2 separate regions of the Homo sapiens genome follow, and region 2 is reported to be linked to region 1. The links are microRNA targets in miRTarBase. Many come from high-throughput screens and were not tested one by one. Region 1 holds a microRNA gene; the other region holds the end of a gene's coding sequence.
The links. Region 1 holds the annotated microRNA hsa-miR-766-3p (ACUCCAGCCCCACAGCCUCAGC, at 1,197-1,218, shown strand). A microRNA usually pairs through its seed, bases 2 to 8, with sites in the 3' UTR of a target mRNA and lowers its output. Matches are read on the target gene's strand: a 7mer-m8 pairs with bases 2 to 8, a 7mer-A1 pairs with bases 2 to 7 and ends in A, and an 8mer does both.

Region 2: the mRNA of TTC39A is a reported target of hsa-miR-766-3p. The part of its 3' UTR that is shown has no 7-base or 8-base seed match.

The regions. Positions count from the first base shown.
Region 1 is chrX:119,644,757-119,647,980 of GRCh38, reverse strand. MIR766 (microRNA 766) reads left to right here and starts at 1,133; the gene lies at 1,133-1,243. All of the region lies in intron 5 of SEPTIN6 (septin 6), which reads left to right. RefSeq lists an enhancer at 1-79.
Region 2 is chr1:51,285,392-51,288,496 of GRCh38, forward strand. TTC39A (tetratricopeptide repeat domain 39A) reads right to left here. Exons shown (of 18, transcript NM_001297663.2): 18 at 1,867-2,889. The coding sequence ends at 2,766. Among named protein-coding and RNA genes, the nearest start is that of TTC39A-AS1, 43 kb to the right of the region's middle.

The DNA of each region.
Region 1 (3,224 bases):
TACTGAAATTTAAAAAAAATTAACTAGTGGCCGGGCGCGGTGGCTAACGCCTGTAATTCCAACACTTTCGGGGGCCAAGGCAGGTGGATCACCTCAGATCAAGAGTTCGAGACCAGCCTGACCAACATGGAGAAACCCCGTCTCTAGTAAAAAGACAAAATTAGCCAGGCATGGTGGCGCATGCCTGTAATCCCAGCTACTCAGGAGGCTGAGGCAGGAGAATCGCTTGAACCCAGGAGGCAGAGGTTGCAGTGAGCTGAGATCTCGCCTTTGCACTCCAGCCTGGGCAACCAGAGCAAAACTCCATCTCAAAAAAGAAAAAATTAACTGGTGCTGTGGCGCACACCTGTAGTCTCAGCTACTTGGTCGGTGGGTGGCCTAAAGTGGGAAGATTACTTGAGCCTGGGAAGTTGAGGCTGCGGTGAACCCTGATCGAGCCACTGCACTACTGCAGGCTGGGTGACAGAGCAACACCCTGTCTCACAAAAAAAAAAAAAGAGAGAGAGAAAGGAAAGGAAAGAAAAAGAAAGTAAATAAAGAGAGAAAGAGAGAAAGAAATAAAAAGGAAGGAAGGAAGGGAGGAGGGAGGGAGGGAATTCCAGTGGAAGGAAGGAAGGAAGGAATGGAGGAAGGGAGGGGAGGGGAGGAGAGGAGAGGAGCAGGGAATTCCAGTGGATTCAGGATTATCCCTATCATAAATCACTCACCACTTACTCCCTTGCATCCTACTGTGCTTTGTTTTTTTTTTGAGACAGGCTCTCACTCTGTCGCCCAGGCTGGAGTACAGTGATGCAATCAATTTCAGCTCACTGTAGCCTCCACCTCCTGGGTTCAACTAATCCTCCTGCCTCAGCCTCCCGAGTAGCTGGGACCACAGGCATGCACCACCATGCCCGGCTAATCCACTATGGGTTTTTTTTGAGTGGGAAAGAGAGGAGTGGCCTCACAGCTAGTGTGCCTGAATTGGCATGCCTGTGAGAGGAGCTTGCATGTGAGTGTTTTGTGTTACATGCGCTGTGATGGGAAAGAGGGTGCTATCAAATATACACAGAGGATTGCTTAGCCTGCCTGCCACCGAACAACTATGTCAAAAGTCCCCAGAGTCTTCACACAAGCCGTGGTGTATGAAGCTGCATCCTCAGGACCTGGGCTTGGGTGGTAGGAGGAATTGGTGCTGGTCTTTCATTTTGGATTTGACTCCAGCCCCACAGCCTCAGCCACCCCAGCCAATTGTCATAGGAGCTGGATTGGAAGAAGCGGAAGAAATCTGTTGCCTGAGTGGAGAAGACTGTACAATGTCCTGTCTCTCACCATGGGGGATTTTTGTGGCAGGAAATGAGAGTAATGAGGTCCCTGCCACCACCTTGAATTATGGGTGGCTCCAGAAAACCTTATTGTAGATTGAGGGGGAAGAGAAGGGAGAGCGAGGTCTTGTTGCATGCTATTTTCAACCCATGCTCTGATATCTCTCAAGGTTGTAGACTTTAATACTAAGAATTGCTATGTTATTTTAAATTTAATGATGTTCTTTGAATGGCTGAAAGCATGGCCAGGACCAGCAAAAAGGCCCAGTTACTTAATTGACTGAGCTCCATTAATTGTCCATTTGTGAGGTCTGGGGTTTGGTTCCCACAAAGGCAATTGACATTTGGGCCCAGTGAGAACACATGGCTGAACAGTAGGGTCATAGGAAGACCCACAGGCACAAGTCCATCCCTTCCTCTGAGACAGCAATGGTATTTCCATTGTTGCCATGTACTTTTACAGGAATCACCAGTGGTTGACTTGAGAGCAAATCAGCCAATGGTCTTGTTCAGTCACCAGCAGGGGCCTGAAATGGGGACTAACATAACTGGGAAACACTGTCCACCCTGGGAGGAAACCAAGCCCAATCAGAATATTATCATTAGATGAGGAATAAAGAGTTCTGACAGTGTGTATTTCACTGGGCTAAGCAGTCACCTAGCCTCCCAAGTATAATGGATGTGGTGAAATAAGAATAAAGTAACTCACGCCAATTGGATTATTAAGTACTTTACAATGTACAAGAAGAATTTAAGTTAGACACAAGTCAGTAAAGGTGGTGCTATGGTTTGATTGTGTCCCCTCCAAAATTCAGGTGTGGCCAGTATGATAGTATTAAGAGGTCGGGGCTGGGTGCAGTGGCTCACACGTGTAATCCCAGCACTTTGGGAGGCCAAGGTGGGCGAATCACAAGGTCAAGAGATCGAGACCATCCTGGCCAACATGGTGAAACCCCGTCTCTACTAAAAATACAAAAAATTACCAGGCGCAGTGGCTCATACCTGTAATCCCAGCTACTTGGGAGGCCGAGGCGGGTGGATCACCTGAGGTCGGGAGTTCGGGACCAGCCTAACCAACATGGAGAAACCCCGTCTCTACTAAAAATGCAAAATTAGCCGGGCATGGTGGCACATGCCTATAATCCCAGCTACTCAGGAGGCTGAGGCAGGAGGATCGCTTGAACCCAGGAGACGGAGGTTGTGGTGAGCTGAGATCACGCCATTGCACTCCAGCCTGGGCACCAAGAGCAAAACTCCATCTCAAAAAAAAAATAGCTGGGCATGGTGCCACACACCTGTAGTCTCAGCTACTCGGGAGGCTGAGGCAGGAGGATCACTTGAACCCGGGACGCGGAGGTTGCAGTGAGCTGAGATCACGTCACTGCACTCCAGCCTGGCGACAGAGTGAGACTCCGTCTCAAAAAAAAAAAAAAAAAAAAAGGTAGGGCCTTTAGGAATTGATTGGGCCTGGCCAGGCGCGGTGGCTCACACCTGTAATCCCAGCACTTTGAGAGACCAAGGCGGGTGGATCACCCAAGGTCAGGAGTTCAAGACCAGCCTGGCCAACATGGCGACATCCTGTCTCTACTAAAAATACAAACATTAGCTGGGCGTGGTGGCAGGCACCTGTAATCCCAGCTACTCAGGAGGCTGAGGCAAGATAATCGCTTGAACCCGGGAGGCGGAGGTTGCAGTGAGCCGAGATCGTGCCATTGCACTCCAGCCTGGGCAACAAGAGCGAAACTCTCATCTTAAAAAAAAAAAAAAAATGTGATTGGGCCATGAGGGCTTCTCCCTTGTTAATGGGATGAAGGCCCTTTTTTTTTGAGATGGAGTCTCGCTCTGTCGGCCAGGCTGCAGTGCAGTGGTGCGATCTTGGCTCGGCTAACCACAACCTCCGCCTCCCAGGTTCAAGCAATT
Region 2 (3,105 bases), not on the chromosome of region 1:
TATCTCAGAATTTGCAGGTGGGGTACAGGAGGCAAAACCCACTGATTTATCTTATCAGGGCAGCAGAGGTAAAAGTGACATAGGATTAATTAACAAAGCCCAGGAGGAAATAAACAGCAAATGTTGACGAGGAAATCATCTTGACCAAATTTTAAAATGAAAGCACCCGTGGCCGGGCGTGGTGGCTCATGCCTGTAATCCCAGCACTTTGGAAGGCCAAGGCAGGTGGATCACGAGGTCAGGAGATCGAGACCATCCTGGCCAACATGGTGAAACCCCATCTCTACTAAAAATACAAAAATTAGCTGGGCATGGTGGCGCATGCCTGTAATCCCAGCTACTCAGGAGGCTGAGGCAGGAGAATTGCTTGAACCCGGGAGGCAGAGGTTGCAGTGAGCTGAGATCGCGCCACTGCACTCCAGCCTGGTGACATAGCGAGACTGTCTCAAAAAAAAAAAAAAAAAAAAAAGCACCCGAAATGAGTTTTTTTGTAAACTGCAATTTTCCAAAGTATGTGTTTGGTGTCCTGTGAGTAGTGCTGCTTTGATACAGCAGCAGGCAACATTCCAACATGTGGGGAAGCCATGGAGGCCTGTCCTCCTGCAGCCTGTCTCTACCCGCTCACCCTGTCCTGTCCAGGAGCCTAGAAACAGGTTGGTCTCCCAGCATCCAGGCTTTGGAGAAGAGATAGCTTGCAAAGGGATTACTCTCTATGGAGGACATTCTTTTGTTTCATTCTAATAATATGAGAGATTTTTTTTTCATAGCATTTCTACTCTGACAATACTCATTGGAAAAGATAATCTTGGGTGAGGGTTTTTTTGCTTTTTTTCCTAATAATATATTTTGCCTAAAACCCATTACTTCATTCGATGTCACCCATAGGAGGCTGGTCAACTGGATCTTTTTTTTTTTTTTTTGAGATGGAGTCTCCCTCTGTCGCCAGGCTGGAGTACAATGACACGATCTCAGCTCACTGCAACCTCTGCCTACTGGGTTCAAGCGATTCTCCTGCCCAAGTAGCTGGGACTACAGGCATGCGCCACCACGCCCAGCTAATTTTTTAATTTTTAGTAGAGACGAGGTTTCACCATATTGGTCAGGATGGTCTCGATCTCCTGACCTCATGATCCACCCACCTCAACCTCCCAAAGTGCTGGGATTACAGGCGTGAGCCATCGTGCCCGACCGACTGGATCTTTATATATTAACCCAGACCCTTGGCAGATACTCGTGTTTGTTAAATACAGCAATCCTAGAAGATTGGAAAGTTTAACTGGTTCTTCTCTCGTAGAAACTGCATTCATGCATTTGGGGAGTAACGTTTTCACAGATGAATATTTTTACTGTGTGCATGATTTTCCCTACGGGGAAATGGTTAGGTTGAAGTGTGCTGACATCAGAAAGTGAAGAGTAAAACCTGGTGTTGGTCATTGAACCTGAGTTCTCACTTTAACAATCCTAGAGGTTGCAAATTCAGATGCTTTTAGGGGCCAGAAAGGTAACAGAAGTGTTTAAAGTAGCCTGGACTTAGCTCTAGCTGATTGTTGCCTCATGGGAATGAGGCTCAATGTTGCCATTTTTGTTTGTTTGTTTTTAAATTACAGGCCAGGAACCAGATTCATCTGTAAAATCTCCCCATTTGTGAATGCTGGTAACTTATTCAAAAAGTTTAAAACATTGTGTGGTCTAAATAAAACATACATAGGCCGTGTGGCTTCTGATCAAGACTTTCTGCCTGGCCTAAGGATTCATGCAACACATATTTTATTGAAATACATGATGCACGATCCCTTAAGGGCATAAATTTTATCACTTAAATATCTCTTTTCTCTTAACTGAAGAATCTAACGCATACACAACAGGTCAAGAATAACAGTTTTAACAAAAATGCTGTCAGTAAGCAAATGTACCTTGGAGTGAAGTACAGAAGATTTTTATGTTTCATAAATTATTCCCAGTGGTTTCAGTTTGGCATACAGCAAAGATACAGACTGGATTCTGAGAACCTCCTCCTGCCCCCCAAATTTCCTGGCTTTGGCATAGAAAGGGCTACACAGCTCTTCCATCAAGCCCTGGCATTTTCTACTGGTAGAGATTGATTTTTCTACAGAAGAGCTCAGATTTTATCTCACTAAAAAGACGTGCTTGATTTTTAAATTGGAAATTTACAAAAGGAGTGAAATGAAGTGTGAGTAGTAAGGTAGTGGGTGTCTGTGTACATCCTCATGCCCAACCCCAGAAGCATTGAAGCCTGAGGCTTAGCCTCTCCCAGGCATTCCTCAGGTCCTCTGAAGGACCTTCCGTCACACAAGCTGAGAACTTGCTGAATTTGAAAAGCAATTTGCCCTTTGGCATCATCATATAAAGAGATTTACCTCCAGATGATAATAGGTGAAGACAAAGACTTACAGGTGGTTGATTGTTGTTGGTTTTTAAAGCCAACTGTGATCCCATCAATGTATTTCTAAGGAAAATGTAAACTGTTCATACATTCTCTTAAACATCACAGTGAAAAGCAAGTACCCGTATGTGTGATAGGGCAGGCAGAGGGCTCCACCTGCTCTGCCCTTGGCAAAGGCCCTTGGCTACACTGGTGAAAATGCCAGCTCGGCTTCTGCACGGATACACTATGTTGTGCCATCCAACTGGAGTGCCGGTGGACCCCAAAGGCAGGGCAGGGCAGGGGGAGGGGGTATTTTGAAATGTTTTCAGGAGCTCTGTCCAGCTGTCTCTGTCTTCCAGCCCGGAACTGCTGCACAAAGCTACAAGGACACTGATGAGACCATGGATCTGCTGCTGTTCTCTAGGGAAGACTTGGCTTGGAGTGTGGCTGCCTGGATTCGAAAGTGTGTCCTTGACTCCATGGAGTAATTCTTGTAGTTTTGCCTGGAATTGAGCAGCGAATCAGACACATGAGGCTGCCTGCTCCCAGAGATGCTTTTCCTCCTGTTTGAGCTGTATGAGCCCCGCGAGCCAAGGAAGGATTGTAGAGAAATTAATGTGTCCAGAGAGAGTTGAGCCCTACCCAATGGGAGAGTTAACCAGAAGGGTTTGTGGCCCCTCATCCCTGGTATCATGGCCACTGGAACCACTCCTGGTCCT